7 linked regions of the Homo sapiens genome follow. The protein of the gene in region 6 purifies or fractionates together with the protein of the main gene of each other region. This does not show direct contact. Each region holds a gene or a part of one and is shown on either strand. Other genes may lie near its edges. The genes, in order: OBI1, MEX3D, IL37, SERPINB7, IQGAP3, GALNT9 and ESRP2.

Evidence for each region.
Region 1: the proteins of GALNT9 (region 6) and OBI1 purify together in Homo sapiens (affinity purification with mass spectrometry; one large-scale study listed by BioGRID and IntAct). This does not show direct contact.
Region 2: the proteins of GALNT9 (region 6) and MEX3D purify together in Homo sapiens (affinity purification with mass spectrometry; one large-scale study listed by BioGRID and IntAct). This does not show direct contact.
Region 3: the proteins of GALNT9 (region 6) and IL37 purify together in Homo sapiens (affinity purification with mass spectrometry; one large-scale study listed by BioGRID and IntAct). This does not show direct contact.
Region 4: the proteins of GALNT9 (region 6) and SERPINB7 purify together in Homo sapiens (affinity purification with mass spectrometry; one large-scale study listed by BioGRID and IntAct). This does not show direct contact.
Region 5: the proteins of GALNT9 (region 6) and IQGAP3 purify together in Homo sapiens (affinity purification with mass spectrometry; one large-scale study listed by BioGRID and IntAct). This does not show direct contact.
Region 7: the proteins of GALNT9 (region 6) and ESRP2 purify together in Homo sapiens (affinity purification with mass spectrometry; one large-scale study listed by BioGRID and IntAct). This does not show direct contact.

What each region holds. Positions count from the first base shown.
Region 1 is NC_000013.11:78,642,156-78,645,655, forward strand, and holds part of OBI1 (ORC ubiquitin ligase 1), read right to left. Parts: intron 2,843-3,500; coding exon 2,707-2,842; intron 1,398-2,706; exon of another isoform or gene 871-1,397; intron 59-870; coding exon 1-58. UniProt on the Homo sapiens protein: E3 ubiquitin ligase essential for DNA replication origin activation during S phase.
Region 2 is NC_000019.10:1,554,172-1,558,325, forward strand, and holds the end of MEX3D (RNA-binding protein MEX3D), read right to left. Parts: intron 2,753-4,154; coding exon 1,392-2,752; 3' UTR 1,219-1,391; coding exon of another isoform or gene 1,160-1,218; 3' UTR 501-1,159; downstream 1-500.
Region 3 is NC_000002.12:112,914,165-112,916,773, forward strand, and holds part of IL37 (interleukin-37), read left to right. Parts: intron 1-1,028; coding exon of another isoform or gene 1,029-1,095; intron 1,096-2,609. UniProt on the Homo sapiens protein: Immune regulatory cytokine that acts as a suppressor of innate inflammatory and immune responses involved in curbing excessive inflammation.
Region 4 is NC_000018.10:63,792,418-63,795,917, reverse strand, and holds part of SERPINB7 (serpin B7), read right to left. Parts: coding exon 3,475-3,500; intron 2,758-3,474; coding exon 2,641-2,757; intron 1-2,640. UniProt on the Homo sapiens protein: Might function as an inhibitor of Lys-specific proteases. Might influence the maturation of megakaryocytes via its action as a serpin.
Region 5 is NC_000001.11:156,527,566-156,531,065, reverse strand, and holds part of IQGAP3 (ras GTPase-activating-like protein IQGAP3), read left to right. Parts: intron 1-748; coding exon 749-961; intron 962-1,636; exon of another isoform or gene 1,637-1,736; intron 1,737-1,983; coding exon 1,984-2,150; intron 2,151-2,455; coding exon 2,456-2,557; intron 2,558-3,005; coding exon 3,006-3,114; intron 3,115-3,500.
Region 6 is NC_000012.12:132,326,790-132,331,068, forward strand, and holds the start of GALNT9 (polypeptide N-acetylgalactosaminyltransferase 9), read right to left. Parts: upstream 2,801-4,279; 5' UTR 2,415-2,800; coding exon 2,177-2,414; intron 1-2,176. UniProt on the Homo sapiens protein: Catalyzes the initial reaction in O-linked oligosaccharide biosynthesis, the transfer of an N-acetyl-D-galactosamine residue to a serine or threonine residue on the protein receptor. Does not glycosylate apomucin or SDC3.
Region 7 is NC_000016.10:68,228,533-68,230,830, forward strand, and holds the end of ESRP2 (epithelial splicing regulatory protein 2), read right to left. Parts: intron 2,023-2,298; coding exon 1,857-2,022; intron 1,784-1,856; coding exon 1,694-1,783; 3' UTR 501-1,693; downstream 1-500. UniProt on the Homo sapiens protein: mRNA splicing factor that regulates the formation of epithelial cell-specific isoforms. Specifically regulates the expression of FGFR2-IIIb, an epithelial cell-specific isoform of FGFR2.

The sequences.
Region 1 (3,500 bases), on a different chromosome or scaffold from region 6:
TTCCGAAGATGCTTCCTGACCGTATGGCTTAGCATAGGTTCACTTTCACTTGTTCCTCCTGTAGGGAAAAAAAAAAAAATCCTAATTTTTCATTCTGATTCGGGAAGAATGAAAATGATCCTTTTTCATATTGTTTTATATAGCTTCCCAGCTTCACATCTACCCTTCCCCTTACATACACACTTGGGGCTTACATCTAGGCCTTTTCTCTACCCTAATCTTGAGGAAAAAAAAATATATCAAATAACACCATAAGAAATACCTTCAGTAACACATCATATTGTATTTACATATCTACATATCTTATCACAGCAAACTCAGTGGAGGAAAGGGCTGTAATTATCACATTTGGACTACTTCAAATTCTGAAAACTAGACTATATTTAAATAATAAAACCAATTATTACATTTACATTTAACCAAGAGATTATATAAAAATGTATTACTGGCTGGGTGCAGTGGCTCACGCCTGTAATCCCAGCACTTTGGGAGGCCGAGGCGGGCGGATCACGAGGCCAGGAGATAGAGACCATCCTGGCTACAGTGAAACCCTGTCTCTACTAAAAATGCAAACAAACAAAATTAGCCGGGCGTGGTGGCTGGCGCCTGTAGTCCCAGCTACTCAGGAGGCTAAGGCAGGAGAATGGCATGAACCCGGGAGGCGGAGCTTGCAGTGAGCCGAGATTGCGCCACTGCACTCCAGCCTGGGCGACAAAGCGAGACTCCGTCTCAAAAAAAAAAAAAGTATTACTGCTATATACCTATGTATATAGATTAATGTGTCTTTTCACGGATTCTAACAGGCTAGTTACAATGGACTGTAAGTCATGGCATTAACTCTATGTCATGACTTGTTACAAATGCACTCACAATGAATTCTTCCTGAGAGCTCTTCACTGATGCTCTGGTTACCTTCTTTGTATTTTTTAGCATTATAATAATAGCAAAGGTATTTTACAGGTGTTCTTTTTCAGGATGTTCTATCCAAATGCAAAAATGGATGAACTATTTTCCTTGAGAGAATTTATGAAATATCACTTAGGTATGAATGAATAAAGGTAGGATATGGGATGAGAAGAAAAGCTGGGGGAAAATATTCAAATCATCAAAGCTCATATTCTGCAAGAAAAGACTTGACTCCTTGGTGAAATTCAGCAGGTAAAAAAAAACAGATAGAGGTTAACCCCGTAGCATGCAACACAGCAGAGAACCAGTCCTCTACCAGACTTCACCCAGGTACCAAGAGCCAACTCTGATTGCGCCTTCAGATCTCTTATTTCCTAAGTCCTACTAGTTCTTCTTTTGCTCTGTAGCATATATATTCCTTTCTATTTCCTTTGTAAAAATCTTGGCTGGGCACGGTGGCTCACGCCTGTAATTCCCAGCACTTTGGGAGGCCAAGGCGGGCAGATCACCTGAGGTCGGGAGTTCGAGACCAGCCTGACCAACATGGAGAAACCCCGTCTCTAATAAAAATACAAAATTAGCCGGGCGTGGTGATGCATGCATATAATCCCAGCTACTTAGGAGGCTGAGGGAGGAGAATCGCTTGAACCCAGGAGGCAGAGGTTGCGGTGAGCCGAGAACGCGCCACTGCACTCCAGCCTGGGTAACAAGAGCGAAACTCTGTCTCAAAAAAAAAAAATCTTATTTAAGTCCATTTTCCCTAACTTGGGACTATTACAATGACTTCTTAAGTTTTCTGAAAAATGTTTTCTATACTTGGCTAATTGTAGATTCACTTTCAATTTTTCCTATAGCAAAAACAAGTAGAAATCATTTTAATTTTTGCAACCTAAAATAAATAACTTATATGAGTAGAATAAAAACCAAACTCTAAAAAGGCTCTTTAGAAGTTCTCCTTTTCAAGGATCCTCTAGTTCAAGCTTTACTCCTCCCCCACCCCACCAATATTAATGTGACATAGAATTTGTTTTCACCCTTAATCCAAACTTACATTTTCTATCACCTAGGCAAAAGCCTCCTACCAGACCTACTCACATCCTGTCTACTCCTATAGTCCAACCTATGTATTACCACAAGTAATATTTGTAAAGCACATTTTGGATCATACCACTCCCTTGCTCAAAACCATCATGCCCAATTCACCCTTCTTCTTAGTCCTAGAGCAAGTCCCTGATTTAGCTGTCATTCAAGGTTCTCTGCACTAAAGTCTCAATTTACCTTTTGTCTTATCTCAGTAGTCGGACCCAAAGTAGACTACTGATCATTTCTAAAAACATGCTCTGGGTTTTCCTGTATCTAAACTTTTTAGTTCATGCTATTCTCCCTGCAGGAAATGCCCTCCTTAATTTTCACCGTTGAAATGTTATCCATCCTTAAATTTAAATGTCCAGCTTAAAGGCCACCTACTTTATGAAGCCCTTCTCGGTGTTCTTAGCTGAAGTTTCTTGCCTGAACTCTCTGGGCTTTTTTGGGGCCCTTAGCACTTGCTGCTTTTCTTTTGGTTCAGTTGCTATGAAAATGTAAGTTCCGTGAGGCTCTCAGGGTTATTCCTCTTAGCACCTCTCAGTGCCTTGTGCCCCAGTTGCTCCACATATACATTACACAAATTACTCAACCACTCAGTATTATGTTGGCCAAATAGCATCACTGAAAATAGCCTATTTCAGTCTTCCTCGAAATATAAATTATTTGGAGATTGTTTCAAACCTATTCCTATGCATATATAAAACAGGCCCTTACCTATAATTTCTTTGCAAGGATTTTCAGGAGTGATGGGGACTCTGCAAGCTGGACACTGGCTATTATTCTTCAACCACAAATCAATACAAATCGAACAAAATACATGGTTGTTGATGCATATGACAGGCTGACGTACCTTTGAAAAAAGAAATCACTTTTAGTACAGGACAACGGTCATAATTAGAAGATCAAATGGTTTAGTTTACAGCAAACTGCTTCTCTAGATTATAGCAGAGTAGGAGTTTAAGAAGGGATATCTAGCGCTTTTAAAAACACTGCTTCTGTTGGTCACTTTTCTTTTTACACATGTTTAACAGAGATACTAGATGAGATACTGGATCATGGAGACTGAAGCTTTTGACATATAAAATGCTTTATTTTGTACCTAAACCACAGAATTCATGCCAAAAAGAAAATGCTTTTTGTTCCACTAAGGCTGGGACAATTTTGCTCAAACTCTTCTATTTTAGCATTATAGAACAGCAGGATTAGGTTTTTGAAAATATCATTTAGCACAATCATCCATCTGATGCCCGAATCCTTTTCTCAATTCATTCCACTGTTACAGAATAACAGCAACTATTAAATATTGTATTGATACTTTACTAGAAATTCCCCAAAACCAAACAGTAATGAAAGCTAAAACAACCCAAAAGGCATGAGCTTCACTCTCAAGTAGTTTATAATCTAAACAGCAAACAATGCAGACAGAATTACTGAGATACACCAAATACACAAATCTTTGACTCCAGGCTCCATTTAAACAAGCACAAATAATAATACCTTACATTTAT
Region 2 (4,154 bases), on a different chromosome or scaffold from region 6:
TGTGGTCTCAACCCCAGCCCTGAAGAGCTATATCTGGTGGCCCCATGTGTCTGTCATGGCTCCCAGAGCAGTGGGGGGATGACCACGGCTCAAACGTCCTTCACAGACCAGGATGCATCGGGGTCAAACCTGGGACGGGCATTTCCAGGCCTCAGTTTCCCCATCTGCACGACCGCTGGACGGTCTGTTGGGATGGATCCCACACACCCAGAGAGCTGGGCAGATGTCCCTGAGGAAGGACAGCCTGGGTCCCCTTTCTCTGTGGGATCCATGGTTGAACACCCACAGGGATGGGGAGGACCTGAGGTTTGCTCACGGGGAGCCCAGCTAGACCCTCCCCCACAGACCCAATTCCTTCGTCTGGAACAAGGGACAGTGCCTGGTCGGGGTGAGGGCCTGGACCACGGAACTGGGGGGTTGAGGGGCTGGATCCGGGTGTCCCCTGCCCCGGGGTCTCCCCTCCTGGTGCCCATCCCCCACACCACGCTGAAGCCGTGTGCTCACATGTAGAAAAGAGGCTTTATTAAGAAGGCTTTGAAGTCAAAAAATAAAACTCTTGATACAATTTTTTTAACCCTTAAATCAGCTCAGCAAATATATAATCAGTAATTTAGCTGTGTAAGATTAAAGGTCCATTACTTTATTTAAAATAAAATATATTTTAGTTCTTAAAATTTATTCCATAAAGTACATATTTCCCTATAAATTCCCTACATATACACAAGAGGTAAAAAGTAAAAGTAAAAAAAAAAAAAAATTAAAAAAATTTTAAAAATGACAACAGAAACCGCAGTAAAAAGGGGATTAATAATTAACAGAAAGTTAGAAATTTGATTGGAACGCCCCTCGCCCCCGCCCCCCTGCCCCCTCCGGCCGCGCACGGTTGATGTACAAAAGCATAAATGGTTAGCCCCAAAAAGGGAGTAAAAATGTCACCCTCCTCCTCTGGAACGTCTGTGCGGCCTGAGACCGGCCGGCGAGAAAAGTCAAATCAGAAAACGGCTTCGGACGAAAGGAAAAAACGCTGAGCGCTGGAAAAGTCGTGTTTTTTGTTTTGCTTTTTTAAAGATCACCCTGGAGGGGAGGGGTGTCTAAAAATAAGAAAACTAAAAAAAGTGCAAGCGGACCTTTTCTCTCCGGTTTATTGTAACCTGACCACTCAATACTGTCGTTGAAGGGCTGAGGCGCCGCCGGGCTGCGGGGTCTCCGTCTCCACGCCTGAGGCGGCAGTTAAAGCTCATCTGTAAACACTGGCCGCCGCCCACCCCCCTGCCCCCTCGGCCTCCGCCCCTCGCCCCCTCCCCGTCCCTCTCCCACCCCGGGTCCCGCCCCGTCTCCCGCGCCCACCCCTGGCCCCCGCAGATGGCCCCGGCCACGTGGTGGTCCGCGCTCTAGGAAAAGATATGAATGGCCTGGGTGGCCGGCGTGCGGCAGGCGGGACACTCGGGCTCGCTCTTGCCGCAGATGCGGACGGCGCAGTCCATGCAGAAGAGGTTGTGGCCGCAGGGGACCAGCGCAGCCATCACCTCGCCCTCGGCGCACACCACGCACTCTCGCGCCAGGGCCGGGGCCGAGGACGCCGAAGGGGGCTTGCGGCTGTTCTCGGAGGCGCCGGAGTCCAGGGGGGCGCAGGCGGCGGCCGCGGGGCTGCTGGGCAGCGAGGTGGCCGTGGAGAAGGCGGCGCCGCCTGGGAAGGATACGGGGCCCTGCGGGGGTCGCCAGGACAGCGCGCCCACCGGGTCCGGGGCGCCACGGCGAGACAGCGGGAGCTCCAGGCGGAGGCCGCCGGGCTCGGGCAGCGTGGGCGAGTGGCGGGGGGTCCCGGCCCCACTGCTGCGCCGGGCGCCGGCGGCGGGAGGTCCCGGGGCTCCGTTGACCGTGGAGCAGCCGCTGAAGGCGGGCAAGGGGGCGGCGCGCTCAAAAGGCGCCCAGATGGTGGCCGCGGCGGGCACGGTCAGGTCCAGCGCCAGGAAGTCGAAGTCGAAGCCGAAGTCGCAGTCGTCGGGGGCGGCCGTCCCCACCGGGGCACCGGGACCCTCCGCGCCGAAGGCGAAGCCCCCGTTGCCGGAGCCGCTGTAGGGGCTGGCGGGGCCTGGGTCCGGCACGGAGGGGCCGCCGCGGCTGCCCGCGTAGAAGGCCTCGGGGGCGCTGGGGGCGCCCAGGGCCGTGTCCCCGCGGAGGCCGGCCGTGGCCGTGGGGGGCCGTCGTCCCTGGTTGGGGGTCTTGGCCCAGAGGCTGGCGGCCGCCCCGAGCAGGTCCAGGCAGACGTCGGTGCCGTTGGCGTGGAAGTCGCTGTCGGGGCCCGCGTCGGTGAAGGCGCCAGTGCGCAGCGTGATGTGCGCCTCGATCTCCTCGCGCGCGCGGTCCACGTTCTCGGGCATCCCAGTGACCGCGAACACCGGCTCCTTGTCGCGCCCGGGCGTCACGATGTAGGTGTGCGTCCGCTGCTGGATGCGCTTGATGGTGGCGCCCTTGGGCCCCACCACCAGCCCCACCACCCGGTAGGGCACGCGCACCTGGATGGTGGTCTGTCCGGGAAGGTTGGGCGGGCCCTGGGCGGCGCCGGGCAGACCCCCGGCCTTGCTGCGCGTGGCGCGGATGATGGAGAAGTGTTCGGCCGCCGACAGGATCTCACGCTTGGCCATCTCCACGTCCTCCTTCCGGCCGGTCACGATGAAGACCGGCTCCTCGCCCCGCACTGGGGTCTTGATGTAGGTGTTTGTCTTGGCCCGCAGGGCCTTGATCTTGCAGCCTGTCCGGGAGGGAGGGGAAGGACAAGGTGACCCAGAGCCCCCTGCGCAGCTCAGCCCCGCTGGGCATGCAGGCTGCAGGGCCAGTGAGGGAGCCCCTACCTCCCAGCCTGTGCCCAACAACACTTTATCCTCAGACACGCCACGTCCCTTCTTCCCTCAGCCTCAGTTTCCCCTCTGGGCTCGAGTTTGGCCTAAAAGCAAGACGGCAAGGGGACCCTGTTTTAGGTTGAAAGGTGTGCGCCATAATTTATGTTCCCCTGGAACCGCAGTGTGACGGCTGGGGTGTGAATGTTTCCCCCAAGTTCACAAGCTGGACCCTAATATGCGGCGTTGACAGTATTAATTTAATACGTAGGGTCGGCTGGGCCCGTGGCTCACCCATGTAATCCCAGCACTTTGGGAGGCCGAGGCAGGTGGATCACTTGAGGTCAGGAGTTCCAAACCAGCCTGGCCAACATGGTGAAACCCTGTCTCTACTAAAAATACAAGCAATCATCCGGGTGTAGCGGCAGGCACCTGTAGTCCCAGGTACTTGGGAGGCTGAGGCAGGAGAATCACTTGAACCCAGGAGACGAAGGTTGCAGTGAGCCAAGATTGCACCACTGCACCCCAGCCTGGACGACAAAGCAAGACTCCAACTAAAAAAAAAAAAAAAGCGGGGTGCAGTGGCTCACCCCTGTAATCCCAGCACTTTGGGAGGCCAAGTTGGGTGGATCACGAGGTCAGGGGCTCAAGACCAGCCTGGCCAACATGGTGAAACCCTGTCTCTACTAAAATACAAAAAATTAGCCAGGCGTGGTGGCAGGCATCTGTAGTCCCAGGTACTCGGGAGGCTGAGGCGGAAGAATCGCTTGAACCTGGGAGGCAGAGACTGCAGTGAGCCGAGATCGCACACCATTGCACTCCAGCCTGGGTGACAGAGCGAGACTGTCTCAAAAAAAAAAAAAAAAAAAAAAAAAAAAAAAAAAAAAAGCCGCAATTAGCAAGGTGTGGTGGCGCACGCCTGTAATCCCAGCCACTGGGGAGGGCTGAGGCAGAACCGCCTGAACTCAGGAGGTGGAGGGTGCAGTGAGCCAACATCATGCCACTGCACTCCAGCCTAGCCACAGACCAAGACTCCATTTCAAAAAAAAAAAAAAAAAAAGAGCCACAGTGGCAGGGTCAGTGGCTCACACCCGTAATCCTAGTACTTCGGGAATCTGAGGCAGGAGGATCACTGGAGCCCAGGAGTTTGAGACCAGCCTGGGCAACACAGCAGGACCCCATCTCTACTACAAACAACAACAAAAAATTAGCCAGGTGTGGTGGTACACACCTGTAGTCTTAGCTACTCAGGAGGCTGAAGTGGGAGGATCACCTGAGCCCGGGAGGTGGAGGCTGCAGTGAGCTATGATCACACCA
Region 3 (2,609 bases), on a different chromosome or scaffold from region 6:
CCAGCACTGAGGACAAACAGCCATGGGGCCAGTGGGGGTGCAGGGACACCCACACCACTAAGGGCTCAGGGCGGCGCCTTCAGAGCCTGAACCTTCCTCTCATGCTGCCATTTGAACACCACAACACCCTAATAGGAAACTGTTAACATTGCCACTGTTCAGGTGTGGAAACCGAGACAGACAGTGGAGATTCCCTGCCCTAGGTGACACAGGTAATAAGTGACAGATGTGGAAATTTAAAGGTACTATAACGTCTGTCTGCCTGACTCAGGCTTAAGGCTCCCATCACCTCCTCTTCTCAGGACAGAGTCAGGAGGCCTCAGCCTGAGCCCCAGCTCTAGTGCAGGTTCATGTGGGAATACTGAGCCTCACTAGTACAATGGCAGAGAGGACCAAATGGGACCAGGTGTGTAAGGGTGCCTGGCACAGTTGGGGGAGGCTGCTGTCACTTCTCCACCGCTGCTGCTGCAGTTACCTTTGATGTTTTAGTTTTGTTGTAGTTACACCATTGCTGGCTTTGGATCTGCACTGTGTCCACTCCAGGTGGAACCACGCACACAAGCCTCTCTGTCGGGCCTGTCCTGACTTCTCCTTGTCAGGGCTGGGATCTCCTTCAAATCTGGCGGAAGTGGTTCTCCAAGTCTGGTCCTCAAACGTCAGCAGCATCAGCGCCTAGAAGTGTTAGGAATACACATTCCCAGGCCCCACCACAGACCTCCTGCCTCAGAAACTCAGGGCGCTGAGGCTCTAGGGGCTGCTTTAACAAGACTTCCAGGTTATCGTGACGCACCTTGAAAGTCTGAGAGCTACTGCCCTACAGAAAGTTACTAGTGCCCTAAAGCTGGCGCTGGCACTGATGTTACTGCTGCTGTTGGAGTACAACTTCCCTATAGAAAACAACTGCCAGCACCTTAAGACCACTCACACCTTCAGAGTGGCCTTGAGAAAGATTTGGGGTCAAGGATCATGAGCGAGAACACCACTTAAGAGGATAGTGAACTAGTCTGCATGTGAGACGCTGAGATCCTATGTCAGGCTGTGATAGGAGGGAAACAGAAACCAAAGGAAAGAACAGCTTTAAGAAGCGCTTAAGAGGTACAAAGTAAAATGATGGTGCTAGAAAAGTAGCTTCTTAAAAAGAGCATTTTCCAGTCTCACCCTGGACTAACTGAATGAGAATCTCAGGAGTGTGAGGCCCAGGTATCCATGGTCTTAAAATGCCACCCACCAGGTGATTCCCAGTGTGCACCAGGGGTGAGAGTCACAGCCTTAGGCCATGCCACTCAAAGGGTGTCTTCAGACCAGCAGCACCCACAGCTCTGGGAGTGCATCAGAAAGACAGAGGCTTGGCACCACCCACACCTACTGAACCATAGTTTGCAGGTGATTTCTTGCACATTAAAGTGTGGGAAATGGAAAAGCTTAGAGTTCAGCTAGCTCGGTGACTCTCAGTCAACCTGCACCTGCTCCATGAACTCAGACTGCCTGGGATGGGCCCAGAAAAGCTCCTGAGGAGATTCTGATGTAAGGCAGGGCTGATAACCATGGATCTCATCTGACCCCATATCACTGGGGAGTTACTTAGGATCTTGCCTGGGGCCAGTCATCTCTTCCATAGACACTGAGAGTGTCCACGATGCTTGGGGCACTACAGGGTGGGAGGTGGAGGATCACGGGTGAGTCAGATAGGAAGCCTGCTCCTGGGGAGCTTACAGTGCTATAGGGCAGCGAGCCAAGGATGCCAATACCTGTGTGCAGGTACCACTGACGAGTGCAGAGCGCTGCAGCACCAGAGAGGAAGCTACCCTGTGCAGAGGGGGCTGAGGAGGGCTGCAGGGAGATGACAGGAAAGCCGGTGTTACAGGAGGAGTCCTCCCCACTCTTTGGGCATGAGGAGACCAGGAGGACATTCTACAGTGAGAAACCCAGGCAGAGGCCATGTGCTTATGGCATGGGAAAAGAATGACACCTTAGACTTATTCTCTACATTAGAATTGCCTACCACAGATACCCATATTATAGCTTCACATAGTGTGGTGGTTACTGTGTTTTCATATTGTCACATTTGCCATTTTCCAGCCACCCACCCATTCTTGACAGTCACTGGCCCAGCCTGGGGGCCCCTGTTCTTTATCAAACAAGTGCCTGAGCTCTTTGCAGAGGTGAGGGTCACCTGTCCAATCAGAGGCCAGGAGGGAACGTTCCCTTTTAAGACCCTACTCTAGGCAGGCCTGGCCCAAATGAGTTGCTAGGAGCCCACGCCCTAAGAACCCTCTGAGCACTGTTGTGGCTGGTCCTGCTGCTAGAAGTTGTTCCTCCAGGGCCAGGTGCAAGATTTGTGGCTTTTCAAAGGAGCCACTAAAGCTCCAGCTCAGCCTTGCACCGTGCTGGGCTCCTGGGGGCTTCCTGCCTCCAACCCTCCCAACTCTTCCATCACCGCTCCCTTAGCCTGGCCAGTGCAGGGATCTGTTCCACTCTAGGCACTGCTGAGGGAATGATGCCTCCAGTCAGAGGGTGCAAAAAAGAGAGTTAAGAAAAACAATGATTATAAAAAGTCCTTTTTATACGCCAGACATTTTCTTTGCTCAGGCTAAGTGCTACTTATTTGA
Region 4 (3,500 bases), on a different chromosome or scaffold from region 6:
CTGCAAATTTTTCAAGGCTACATTATTGCACTCAAGACAAAGCCCAAGCTCTTGAAACTTGCCGACAAGACTCTGCTGATCCCCACCCTGCTTACGTCATAGCCACTTTCTCCTTACTCTGCTGTCCCACGATACTACATTCCTGACAGTTGCTCAAAAATGCCATGTTTCCTCTCTCACTAGAGGTGTTTGAACAACATTCCTTCTGCCTGAAATGGCCCATATAGCTCATGATTATGTCTTACCCATTTTCTAGTTCCAAGTATGGCTGTCTCTCCTGGACAGATATCTTCTCTAGGTTCCACCCACACTTTCTTTTCTTTTCTTTTTTTTTTTTTTTTAATTCTTTTTTTGAGACGATGTCTCACTCTTGTCCCCTTGCAGGCTGGAGTGCAATGGCGTGATGTCAGCTCACTGCAACATCTGCCTCCTGGGTTCAAGTGATTCTCCTGCCTCAGCTTCCCAAGTAGCTGGGATTACAGGTGCCTGCCACCACGCTGGGCTAATTTTTGTATTTTTAGTAGAGATGGGGTTTCACCATGTTGGTCAGGCTGGTCTCAAACTCCTGACCTCAGGTGATCCTCCCGCCTCAGCCTCCCAAAGTGCTGGGATTACAGGCATGAGCTACCACGCCTGGTCCCACCTACATTTCCTAACAGTCTGTTTATCTTGATTTCTTTTCTTAACAGCTGTTATCATAATGCATCCTTTTTACCTTTGAGATTGTCTGAGTCCTTCACAAAACAGCAAATTCTGTGAAGTCAAGACTATATATGCCTTGCTTATTATTTTATTCCCAGTACCTAACACATTGCCTTGGACATAATAGTTGCCTAAGAAATACTTGCTGTTCTTAATACAAAAAAAGTCATAATGATCTAATTTATCAACACATTAGTAATTCAATGAATATACACAAATATATTTTTGTGGAAAGATGTTCAGAATTAGAAGAGAAAGATGTATTACAAACCATGTATTGTTAGTGGATTTCCTGTTAAAGTTTATAGGATTTTCATCCTAATAATGAAGATTCACTAGTTGTCCTTTGTCTATCTGCAGGATAAGACTAGCTCTCTAATGCAAGCTTTGTGTGTGATTTCCTTGGATACAGCTCTTTTCATCTACTGATTAATTCATTCTTCCATCCACACATCCATTCATCCATCCACTTTGACACAAAGAGTATTTTTTTTTTGTTTTTTTGTTTATTTGTTTTTTGTTTTTTGAGACAGAGTCTCGCTCTTTCGCCCAGGCCGGAGTGCAGTGGCGCTATCTTGGCTCACTGCAAGCTCCGCCTCCTGGGTTCATGCCATTCTCCTGCCTCAGCCTCCCGAGTAGCTGGGACTACAGGCGCCTGCCACCGCGCCCGGCTAATTTTTTGTATTTTTAGTAGAGACAGGGTTTCACCGTGTTAGCCAGGATGGTCTTGACCTCCTGACCTTGTGATCCGCCCGCCTCGGCCTCCCAAAGTGCTGGGATTACAGGCGTGAGCCACCGCACAAAGAGTAGTTTTAAGTAGTCCATGGCCTAGGAAGGTTGAAACATGCAAGAGATTGATACATGCAAGATGTCAGCAAGGAATAAAGATAGCAGTGGGGAGGGACAGGATAGTTATATAGATGTTGCTATTCTCTACCACTTCCAAGAAACTCAGGCCAGATGTAGTGGCTCATGCCTGTAATCCCAGCACTTTGGGCGGCTGATGTGGGCAGATCACCTGAGGTCAAGAGTTTGAGACCAGCCAGGCCAACATAGCAAATCCCCGTCTCTACTAAAAATACAAAAAAAAAAAAAAAAAAAAAAATTAGCAGGATGTGGTGGCACGTGCCTGTAATCCCAGCTACTTGGGAAGCTGAGGCAGGAGAATCGCTTGAACCCGAGACGCAGAGGTTGCAGTGAGCCGAGATTGCGCCAGTGCACTCCATCCCGGGCAACAGAGCTAGACTCTGTCTAAAAGAGAGAGAGAGAGAGAAGCTCTAGAAGAGCTAGAAGCCACTAAGCATTTATACTTTTTTAAAAAGTCCAACTAGTATGTCATGTTGATCTCCTTCTAAGACTTGTCTATGTCCTTAAAAAAAATACATAAAACTTAAGTGACATAAAAAATAAAATTTGGCCAGGCAAGATGGCTCATGCCTGTAGTTGCAGCAATTTGGGAGGCTGAAGAAAGAAGATCACTTGAGCCCAGGGGTTCAAGACCAATCTGGGCAACATAGAGAGACCCTTTCTCAACAACAAAAAAATTAGCTGGGCATAGTGGCATGCACCTGTGGTCACAGCGACTCAGGAAGCTGAGGTGGGATTATTGCTTGAACCCAGAATGTGTTTCCTGCCATGGACACCCCTAAATGGGCTGACTGCTCCTCCATTCCATTTACAGCTCAGCATCCCTACCAATAGACACGTTCTCTTCTGTTTTGAAGCCTATCAGTCTAATGAACCTGAATATGTGGATTAATTGGGTAAAAAGTTGAACTTTGGAAATGGTGATGATATATTCAAGACATCTGAGAACATAATAAGTAGCAATGAGAAACAAAACCATCTTTGTATTGCTCAGTAGAAAGACACAAGCCTTTGTTCAGATAATGGATTTAACAAGATTCAGGTCCTTCTAACAAAGGCAGTTTCACTTACCTTATGAAAGCCATACACTTTTTCAGCAAAAAGCCCATTCACAATGCTGAGATCATAATCCTTGTGGGATGCATTTATATCAGAAAAAACTCTTTTCAGTTGAGACTGGAGCCCTGACTGTTATTAAAAAGATGTATAAAAATTTATTTTTGGACTGCAAAGATATGCATAATCTCACTTACACATAAAACAAAACATGCAAATTATACCATAAAAGAATTTTTTTAAATACTATAAAAATGGCAAACAAGGCCACATACATCTATGTCTTACCCTTTCTCAAAATAGTGTCTGTGATCAAATGAAATAATTTACTAAATACTTGGACTTAAAATTGTTAACAGAAGGTAATGATTTTGCATAACATATATATTAATTAATTTTACCAATGTAAGTTGTCTATGAATATACAAAGAAAAAGGCAAAACATTTAACTTCATCCTTTCTTGCCCAAATATGGCCAATATGCAAATAAAATATTACTAAAGTAATAAATAACAAGTAAATTATCAAAAATTTTACTTGAAAAATTCACAATCTGGAAATCTGAATAAAGCATGTTTCTTTGCTTTGAAAGGATAGTTCCACATTCTCCAACTTCCATCTCTTGGGTTTAAGCTAACCTCCCACCATAGCCCCCCAAGTAGCTGGGATTATAAACTAATTTTTGTATATTTTGCAGAGATGGGGTTTTGCCATGTTGCCCAGGCTGGTCTTGAACTCCTGGGCTCCAGTCATCCACCCGCCTCAGCCTTCCAAAGTTCTGGTATTACAGGCTTGAGCCCCTGCACCTGGCTCACCTTCTCTTTTTCTAAAAGAACATATTGTCTTTACCTGACTATTAGAAGAGTTTCCATATC
Region 5 (3,500 bases), on a different chromosome or scaffold from region 6:
ACATCAGCCAGAAGCAGACACCTGTGCTCACCAGTAATGAGAACTCTGGAGGCCTACAGGATGAGGGATACAGCTTTAGCCTTGGGAAGCCTCGGGCTACAGAGTCATGGGGCCCCACCCCTCTCCCCACTTCACACACTGAAACAAGCACCAACACTAGGGCTATGGGGGGCACTGAGAGACCGTCTGGGAATGCTCCCCTGGAAGGCCTGCACTCAGAAGAGTGGTCTGCTAGAATGCCTGGAGGCAGGAGAAGGTAGTAGGCAGGTGGGGGGCCAGGGGCAGGTTGGGCCCGCTGGAGTGAAGACTGAACCAGGGTCTTCCCAAAGAAAAGGTGGGGATGGCCAGTAGAGGTATGTCCCAAAACAGAACAGACAGGTAAATGCCCCCAAACATCCTGTGCCGTCAGAAAGATCCATTGTTGGGAAGTCACAGCTAGTGTCTGTCCGGAATCCTTTATGCCATGGCCTGGGTTTGGTTCTCCTTTGGGCCACTCTTCCCCTGTGGTGATCTATGAGGCCCTCCCATGTGTGACACCATGCATTATGGTGTTATACCTTGATATTCTTCATAAGCGATGCCCTGCCCCAGCCATATCCTGCAGAGGCTGGGCTCTGGGGCACTTTCTTAATGATATGCAGAAAAATGCTCAGGCCTCCCTTTGTTGCTGGTGCCCATGGGACCTTCACTGGTGTGGGAGCAGAATGGTAGGACCTGGTAGACCCCTCCAGCGTCTGTGTGTCCCCAGGAAGCAGCCCACAAGCAGCTGATGAGCCGACGCCAGGCCTGTACAGCCCAGACACCGGAGCCACTGCGACGACACCGCTCACTGACAGCTCACTCCCTCCTGCCACTGGCAGAGAAGCAGCGGCGCGTCCTGCGGAACCTACGCCGACTTGAAGCCCTGGGGTTGGTCAGCGCCAGAAATGGCTACCAGGGGCTAGTGGACGAGCTGGCCAAGGTAACAACCTGGGCCTGGGCTCCGTGTGCCTGTGTGTACGTGTGTGTGTGTGCGTGCATATACATGTTAATCCATAGTGTTGGTGGGCCCCTCCTGATGAGTCCTCACCCAAAATTGTCACCAGCCAGAGGAAGGCTGAGGGTCCTTTTTGAAGGAAAGATTTTTTTTTCTTTTTTTTTTTTTTTTTTGAGACAGTCTCACTCTCATCCAGGCTGGAGAGCAGTGGTGTGATCCTGGCTCACTGCAACCTTCACCTCCTGGGTTCAAGTGATTCTCCTGCCTCAGCCTCCCAAGTAGCTGGGATTACAGGTGCGCGCTGCCATGCCCGGCTAATTTTTGTATTTTTAGTAGAGACACGGTTTCAGGCCATGTTGGCCTGGCTGGTTTCGAACTCCTGACCTCAGGGTCCGCCCATCTTGGCCTCCCAAAATGCTGGGATTACAGGTGTGAGCCACTGCACCCAGCCAAATTTTTGTATTTTTAGTAGAGACAGGGTTTCACCATGTTGGCCAGGCTGGTCTCAAACTCCTGACCTCAAGTAATCTGCCCACCTTAGGCTCTCACAAAGTGCTGGGATTACAGGTGTGAATCACCACTCCTAGCCTGAAGGAAAGATCTTGAAATTAGTTAGAGAGGAAGGTGTTCTTGCAACTCTCTTTTTTTTTTTCTTCCCCACATTAGCTGGGTAATGTGCCCAGGTCAGAAGGTTTGAGAGAAGCATATCTCACACAAGAGCATGAAAACCCAATCCTCAGCTTATGACCTACAAAAGTATCCTTGCAACTTTCTTTTACTAAAAAACAAACAGCCTTGAAACCAGTTAGTCCTCAACGGGCAGAGGCCCTGAGGACATGCCTTGAGGATTTGGAATACCATCCTTGAGATTTTCCTTCTAGGAAAACAGCCTTGAAGCCTGTTCTTCCGAAGAGCCTCACAGTGTGTAGCTCTTGGGCCTGTGTCAGGCCCTAAGGCTCTCCTGCCAGGAAGGACCACTCATCCCTCCATCTGTTCCCCAACCCCAGGACATCCGCAACCAGCACAGACACAGGCACAGGCGGAAGGCAGAGCTGGTGAAGCTGCAGGCCACATTACAGGGCCTGAGCACTAAGACCACCTTCTATGAGGAGCAGGGTGACTACTACAGCCAGTACATCCGGGCCTGCCTGGACCACCTGGCCCCCGACTCCAAGTAGGTGCTGCTTTCCCGTACTTGGAAGGTTACGAGTGACTTCTCACCCCTGCCCATGTCACCTTTGCCCTGCTATCTCCCAGCTTTGAAAGGGGAATCTCACCCAGCACAGCACAGTCCCTTCCTAAGTCTGGTCTTTGAGCCTCATTTACAAAGTCTTGGGCTCAAGTGCAGCCCCCCTCCTCTGTCTTCCATCAGTGAGAAGTCTTCCTCGGGGTCTCATTTCCTTTCCAGCCACAGAAAACAAGTTTCTTTGGTGGTAAAGTGTTTATTGGATGAATTCTCTGGGGCCTTCTTTTAATCAGGAGTTCTGGGAAGGGGAAGAAGCAGCCTTCTCTTCATTACACTGCTGCTCAGCTCCTGGAAAAGGGTGTCTTGGTGGAAATTGAAGATCTTCCCGCCTCTCAGTATGTGTCTTTGGAGGGCAGGATGTCAGCCCCTTCCTGTCCTCTAACCTGGGGGTGGAGCTCTGGGCTGGGCACCGGGTGGAAGAGAAGAAGCATGGTCCCGATCTTGAAGGAGCTGCTAGAATGATGGTGGAGACAGAGCATGCCCAGACAGAAAGTGAAGGGCTGTGGACATGGTCTAGCACAGTTCTAGATGCCCTGAGGCAGAGGGTACTGGGAAAGCTTTCCAGAGGTGAGAACAGCTGCGTAGGGCGGGGCAGATAAAGAGATGGTGTGGGGAGCAGAAGTAAAATGGAGAAGACAGCGAGCTGGGCCCTCTGGGAGTGACAGAGGGAAAACTGGTTCTGGATGACACCGCTGCCCAGGATGAGGAGCAGTGGGTGCAAGAATGTGGCTGTAGCCCTGGAAAGAGGCAGTGGGTTCCTGTTTTGAATCCTGTTCCTGACAGCTTCAGAAACGTCATCTTTGACATCACGCCGGGAGATGAGGCAGGAAAGTTTGAAGTAAATGCCAAGTTCCTGGGTGTGGACATGGAGCGATTTCAGCTTCACTATCAGGTGAGGGGACAGTCCCATGAGCCTGCAGGACATCTGCTGGGCTTTAGGTGCTGGCCTGAAGAGAGCAGCTGGCCTCACTTTCCTAGTCCTCAGATGACACCAGCTCAGTTTTTCACCCAATCAGTATCGTCTGTTCCTGAAGAGAAGGGTGGGGGTCTGTGCAGCCCAAGCCCCCCTTTCCCCATGCCCTGACACAGACCCCACTGGCAAGCATCAGGGAGAGTGGAGTGGGCTACTGGTGTCAGAAGCAGGATTAATATTTGAAGCCCTATCACATGTCAGGGACTTTACATGTTACCTCCTTTAATCCTCTCCACAGCTCTGAAGTATTATCCCTATTTTACAGGCTCTAGGCTAAAAGGTTAAGAAGCTGGCTAAGTCATAGG
Region 6 (4,279 bases):
GCTGGCCGCCTCCTCCAGGGAGCTTCTTACACACCTTTTAGCACTGAGAGCCTGTGCCAACATCAGAGCGGGTAATGCTGTTTCAAAGGGCCTCATGGCGACAGACATCAGGCCTCTACGGCACCGCCCTCCCCGTAGGGCCCCACCGGGGGTGAGAGTAATTTTGGTGTCTCCCATCATTTCCTGGGGCAAAGATTGACTGACTCTTGGGTTTAGACACTGTGCCTGGCCTGCTGGTCACAGAGAGGAACGCAGCACAGCCTCATCACAGAGGGGGACGAAACTCGGCCTCATCAAAAGGTTGAGGGCAAAGACAGAGGCAGACAGATGGCAGGGGCCGTTCGGAGAAAGGCTGACAAGGGAGGACAGCTAGGATGAAGGAAAGAAGGAGAAACAATTTTAAAAGAAAGAAAGGAGGAAGGGGGAGGGAAGCGAAGAGGAAGAAGGGAGGGGACAGAGGACAGGAGGAAGCGGGATGGGAGAAGGCAGTGGGGGCGGTGGGCGGTGGGGGGAGACACACTTTCCCGGAATGCTTCCTTATCTCCCGCCAATGTCAGCAAAGCGGATCATGGGTCCTGGCTTTTTCCACCACCAAGAATCCCAGCCGATTCTCACCTTGAAGGGTGAGGCAGGGAAAACGACTCACAGGGCCGAGCTGCCCTCGTGGTGTTACACAACCTCAGTGTGCTGCCAATGTTTTTATGTAATCCTCTGGCTCTCCCCATAAAACAGACCATAACACCATGGCGAGCACACTTCAATAGAGCCATGTGCTATTGCCGGGCACACCGCCTTCCGGGAGATGAATTGCTCTGCCGGGCGGCTGGGCGGCTGCTTGAACTACTTTTCTCCCCTCGTGGCTCCAGCTGAATCAGAAAGATCAGAGAAGCCACAGAGCTCACCAAGCACAGCTCTGCGGGAAAGTCAGGGATTCTGTGGGTGATGGGAAGGCGCTCAGGAAGTCAGGGTGCTCTGAGTCAGACAAAGCTGGGACAACCCCTCCTCATGGGGATTCACCTCCCCCTCCCACCCCACGGCCTGTCTGCAGCCCACCCTCAAGAGAGGGTGTGGCTCCTGAAGGAAACGCAAGACCACCCCCCGCCTTTGCCCCCACACACAGCAGGCACATCCGGAGCCCCCGCCTGCCCGCGTAACCCCAGCTCCCGTCACCTCCCACTCGAGCCTGTTACGGATGCTTTCTGGAGGAGGTTTGCTGGGGCTGCCAAGGCAGAAGCCTGAATCATCGGCACGGAACGGAAAGCCACACCAGCTAGTGATGTAGGCACATGCAAACTTTCTCCTTCCTGGCGCCCCGGTGCAGAGTGGCCTTGGGGGCGGCTGCTCCTCCGGGAAGGTGGAGCAGCTGGAAAAGTGCTTGCTCTCAGCAGCTGTGGCCGCTGGCCCTGACCTGTGGTGATGCCGGTGCTGCTCCTCGGGCTGACCTACGTCCGCTCGTGATGAAACAGACCCACCGGGAGCTGGAGGCTTTCATGGATTCTGGGGCTCCCAGGTGCCACAACTTGGGCCCCCCTGGGTAATGAGTCCTGCCAAGCCCTGCATGATCCTCAACTCCATCCTCCCAGGAGTCTCAGGTCTCAGCTTCAAGCTTCTCCCATAACAACTTTCTAACGCGGCCTCGGGCACCCCCAGGACAGGGGGCCGCCTAGCCCAGTGGTCGAAGCATTTGGGGTGCCTTCGAACCTCAGGGGCAAAGGACACTGCACCAGCAGCCTCCCAAGTGTGGCGTCCCCACCCTCCTCTTTCCCCACCTTCAAGAGTGGAGGGGTCGGCGCAGCCTAAACCTGACGGCCCCCACTCCTGGAGCGCCAAGCCAGCCCCCCACCCCACACTCCTGGACCTAGGCACTGCCTGCTTCTAGAGCAGCTCCAAAGATCCTCTGCAGAAGTTCCCTCGGAGAGCAAGTTTGCGTCATTGTGGGGGCAGGGGGATTCCTCAAGTCTCCACTGGAGGGGTGGGTGCCCGGTGCGGGGGGAACCCAGGTTGCTGCCCGCTGCTGAAGGGGCTTCCGCGGCCCTTCCCTCTCCTCTCTCCTGTATATTCCCTCCCACAGGGGCGCAGAGGGGCGCGCACCCGAGGCCGGCCTGACCCATCGCGCCCGGGGTGGCCACTGTCCCGGGCAGGGCTGCCCCCACTCCGCCCCGGCGCCCCCGCTCACCGTTGAGCTGGTTGTAGACCACCTCCTCCAGGTGGTCCAGGCGCTGCAGGATGGCCTCACGGTCCCCCAGCGTGCCCACCTTGGCGTGTCGGCTGCGCACCCGGCGGTCGCCGCTCACGATGCGCACGAGCTCCTGGGAGCGGCCCTGCAGGCGGCAGTACACGGAGAACAGGACGATGCCCACGAACACCAGGATGTTCACCGTCAGCAAAGTTCGGATCTTCCTGGCCACCGCCATGAACACGGCTGCAGCGGGGGCCTCACCCGCGGGGCATCCCCAGCATCCCCGCCCGGGCCTGGGCTTCAGCTTCGGCTTCGGGGACCATGAGCCGCCCGGGGCTGCGGGGGCTGCGGGGCTCGGCCGGAGCTGTCCCTTCAGCACCAGCTCAGCGCGCCGGGCCACGGCCGCCGGGGGTCCCCCAGAGCGCAGAGGGCTGCCCGGGGCTGGGGTCGCGGGGCGCGGCCGGCATCCCCCGCTCAGAGGGCGCGGCCCCGCCCCGGGGAGCGGTGAGGGGGGCCGGGGGCGCCGGGGGGCGGCGGGGAAGGCGCGGGCGGGCGGCGCTCGGTGTCTGTGCCGGCTCCTGTCCTGCCCGCCCCGCAGCCACCGCGCCGGTGCAGAGTGACGCGGCCTCACCTCACCTCATCTGCAACCGCGGCCCCAGGACCGCCCCGCCCCGCCTCCCCCACCCCTCAAGGCCGCCCCCCGGGACCGCCCCGCGCGCCTGCCCCGCCCCCCCCACCGCGCCCCCCCGGGGACCCCAGGACAGCAGGTCCGGGGGGCGGGGGACGGGGGGCGGGGCGCGCGGGGTAGCCTGGGCCAAGGGCGCGCGGGCGCGGGGAGCGGGGGCGGGGCAGGCGCGGACCCTCCCTCCCCAGGACCCGCCAGACGCCCGGGGCCCCCAACGGCCAGCACGGTCCGAATCGACCCCAAGCTTGACCCGAGGGCAGCGGGGCCTCCGGGAATGCCTGGCCAGGGCGGTGTCGCCGGGAGTGAATGGGGGAGGGGGCGGCCGGGGCAGGACCCGGGTCAGGGCCACTCTGGTAGTCTCCTGCCCACCCCTCCCCAAGCCGAGCTCCCGGCCTCCCTCCCTCTCCCCCGTCCAGGGCTGAGGACTGGGGAAGCTGAGTCCCGGGACGGGTATGGGGGGGTTGGGGCTTGGGATGCAGCCGGACCTCCGGGAACAGCAGGGGGCCCTGGAGCCACCAGGAGGGAGAAGGCCCCGTCCCTGAGCCAGGCTCGCAGGTAAGACCCGAGGCCGCAAACCCCGGCTGCCCCCACCCCCAGCCCAGGCTCTGATCTGGCCCCACACTGGCGTTTTGTGGAGGAGACCCTGGAAGCCAGGGGAGATGTCAGCCAAGCCGCGCAGCACAGGGGCCCAACTTCCACTGGCAGAATGCAAGCACCCAAGAGGCAGGAGTTTCACCCAAAGGCAGGGTTCACCCCTGTGTTCCCAGAGATTGGACACATAGCTGGTGTTCAGTAAACATTTGCGGGATGAGTGAATAAATGACGGAGCATTTATTAAGAGCATGGCTGTGCTTGGCTCTCCATACAGAGATGAGTAAGGCAAGGGGCTTCACAGCTCTTGGCTGTGTGTGTGTCCGTGTGTGTGCATGAGTGTGCATGCATTTGCCTCTGTGTGCCTGTGTATCTGCATATGTGCATGTCTGTGTTGTCAGCACGCATGCATGTGCATGTGTCCACGTGTTTCTGTGTGCATGTCTGTGTGCCCGTGTGTGCATGTATCTGTGTGTGCATGTGCCTGTGTCTGTGTGCATTGTCTCTGTGTGTGTTCATGCGTGTGCATGTGTCTGTCTGTGCCTGTGTGTATTTGTGTATGTGTCTATGTATGTCTGTGTGTGTGTTCACATGTGTGCATATCTCTGTGTTCATCTCTGTTTGTTCATGTGTGCATGTGTCTCTATATCTGTGTGCATCTATGTGTCTGTGTTTGTGTGTCCATGTGTGCATTTGTCTGTGTATCTGTGTACGAGTGTCTGTGTGTCTGTGTGTGCATGTCTGTGTTTGTGTGTTCATATGTGCATGTTTCTATGTATATATGTCTCTGTGTTCATGTGTGTTCATGTCTGTGCATGTTCACA
Region 7 (2,298 bases), on a different chromosome or scaffold from region 6:
CCTGTAGCACTAGAAATGCTTTCCTATTTAAAATAAACATTAAATTTTAAAATAGAGCTTTGTATACTATGTAAGCAGTTTTATATCAGCTTTGTAAAAGCTTTGGTGTTAAGAGTCAATATTTTTTGGCTTTGTAGATAAAGACTTAAATTTTTGTGCAACATAGTGGTGTTAAAGCACACATCCATTGGACTATGCAAATCAATTTCTACTAGCAGCACTGAGCAACTGGGCACGTGCTAGTACGCACCCCCTCCTACTCTAACTGTGCTAGCTCTTGGGTTGAGGAATGGAATGGGTAGCCTTCTGCTTACTGGAGATGCACAGAGAAACATGGCTGAAAACAGCTTTAAAAAGAACATGTCTTTGGGTTCATGTGTGGTGCTGCTGCCCGGGTGTAAACTATCCCCACCCAGGGCCAGCCATTATCACCAGACCTCTTCTGGGCCTGGCTGTGAAGCCCTGTTTTTGGTATTCAGAATGGATCTTTAAGGCTCAGATGGGCTCAAATTGAAACCTTGTGTTTTATAAAATGGATGTTTAGTAAAGGAACTGGTTCTCAGTTATGTTTACAGCACTTGGAATTGTGTGTTCTTGTACATTTTGTATTTTAAAACCTTTTATGGGAGTGCAGTGCTCCTTACACAAATACAAAGGGAAGAAGAGCCAGCAGTTGAGGCTCCTCAGTTTTAGTGCTGAAATAATAAACAGTGACAGGTCAACAGTATCCTTAATCTGTCTGAGTGTTCCTCCGCCTGGGGTTGGTGTGGAGCCCCTCACTTTGGGGCAAAGTTAAGGGTCCTGTGTCTTTTAAAAAGTCCATTTGGTCAATAACTTTTCATTTAAGGAAGAGAAGATCGAGTTCCAAATTGCTTCCGAGGCTTCAGTTCTGTACCATTTAATGCGTGCAAAGGACATTCCATGGTGTCTGCTGGGTTCAGGGCAACTGGCTTTCCCAAGGCATACAAGAAAAGTTGGCAGAAAGTCCTCCCCTTTAAAATTCAAGCCTGAAGGTTTTGTGTGGGGGCCTACTGCCCCCTAATGTCTTCTGGTGATACTGCAGCACAGTCCATCAAAATAGTTTGTGGTTTTGCCATCTGTTACTCCTTATGCCCACCTGGAGAGGGGCTAGCATCTTTAGGTGGGACCACCCCTGGCACAACATGGTCTCTGAGGTCCAGATACTCTGAGGGTAGGGGCTGGCTCTCTCTGCCTCCCTATCCCCTACAAGAGGGACAGGGAGAGGTAGAACATTGGGATCTTTACTCAGAGGCTCAGATGGACCCTTGATTCTCCCAGGAGTCATACATTGAAGGTACCAGAGCTTCCATTTTATAAAAGAAAGCAAGCCTGCCGTGGACCTGTCAGCCCCACGATATCTGTCGGCATGGGCCACAGCCAGGACAGACTTAAGGGCTCTCCAGGTGCCAGTCAAGATGCCTGGCTCAGGCCATCAGGAGCTGGTTAGCCCCATTCCACCCCCAGCCCTGCATGCAGGGTCCAGCCATTGTCTTTGGGGGAAACAGGCAGAATAAGTGGAGGATGGAGCTGGGGCTTGGGCTCCTCTAGGTACCTTCTGAGAGCTTTGACAAGCCAGAAAGAAGCTACCAGGTTGAGGGTGCTGGTCTTCTGGACTCAGGAGAGACATGTTCGCCGAGGATATCAGCTGGCTCTTACCTCCTGGCTTTCTCTCCTACAAACACACCCATTCCTTGGGGGCTTGTAACACAGTGCGAGGTGGGTCACCAACAGGCATCAGACTGGTGTAGTCATCAGCGGGTAGCTACAGAAGGGACACAGATTTAGGGCAGAGAGCTCAGCCAGACCCGCCAGGCCCTCCGGCCACACAATCTCACCTGGTAGGCCTGGAAGACGCTGAGCAGATCCTTCATACCAGCCGTGTATGGGACACCCTGCATGCGGACCAAGGCTCCTGACTGGGACAACACTGAGGTGGGAGCAGAGGCCAGGGCAGCAGTGGGTGTAGTGAGGTAGCCCACAGTGGTGGGGGAGACTGGGGGGCTAGGGTGGGAGAGACAAGGTTTAGTCATGCATGCCACCTGTGGCCTAGACCGAGACCTGTTTCCCTCCTCCCTTGTTTCTGCCTTGTGCTTAATTCAGTTCCTCCCTGAAGCCCCAGCCTCTACAGAGTCATTTTCGATCTGTTTTGTAGATGGCATTAGCCAGCTGCCACCTTACTCCCTTGTCATCTCAAGGGAGGAGTTATCTGGTCCAGAAAGGGGATCGTGACCTTTCCCCAGATTGGGACAGGGAGTGGGACTGTGATATTCTCTTAGC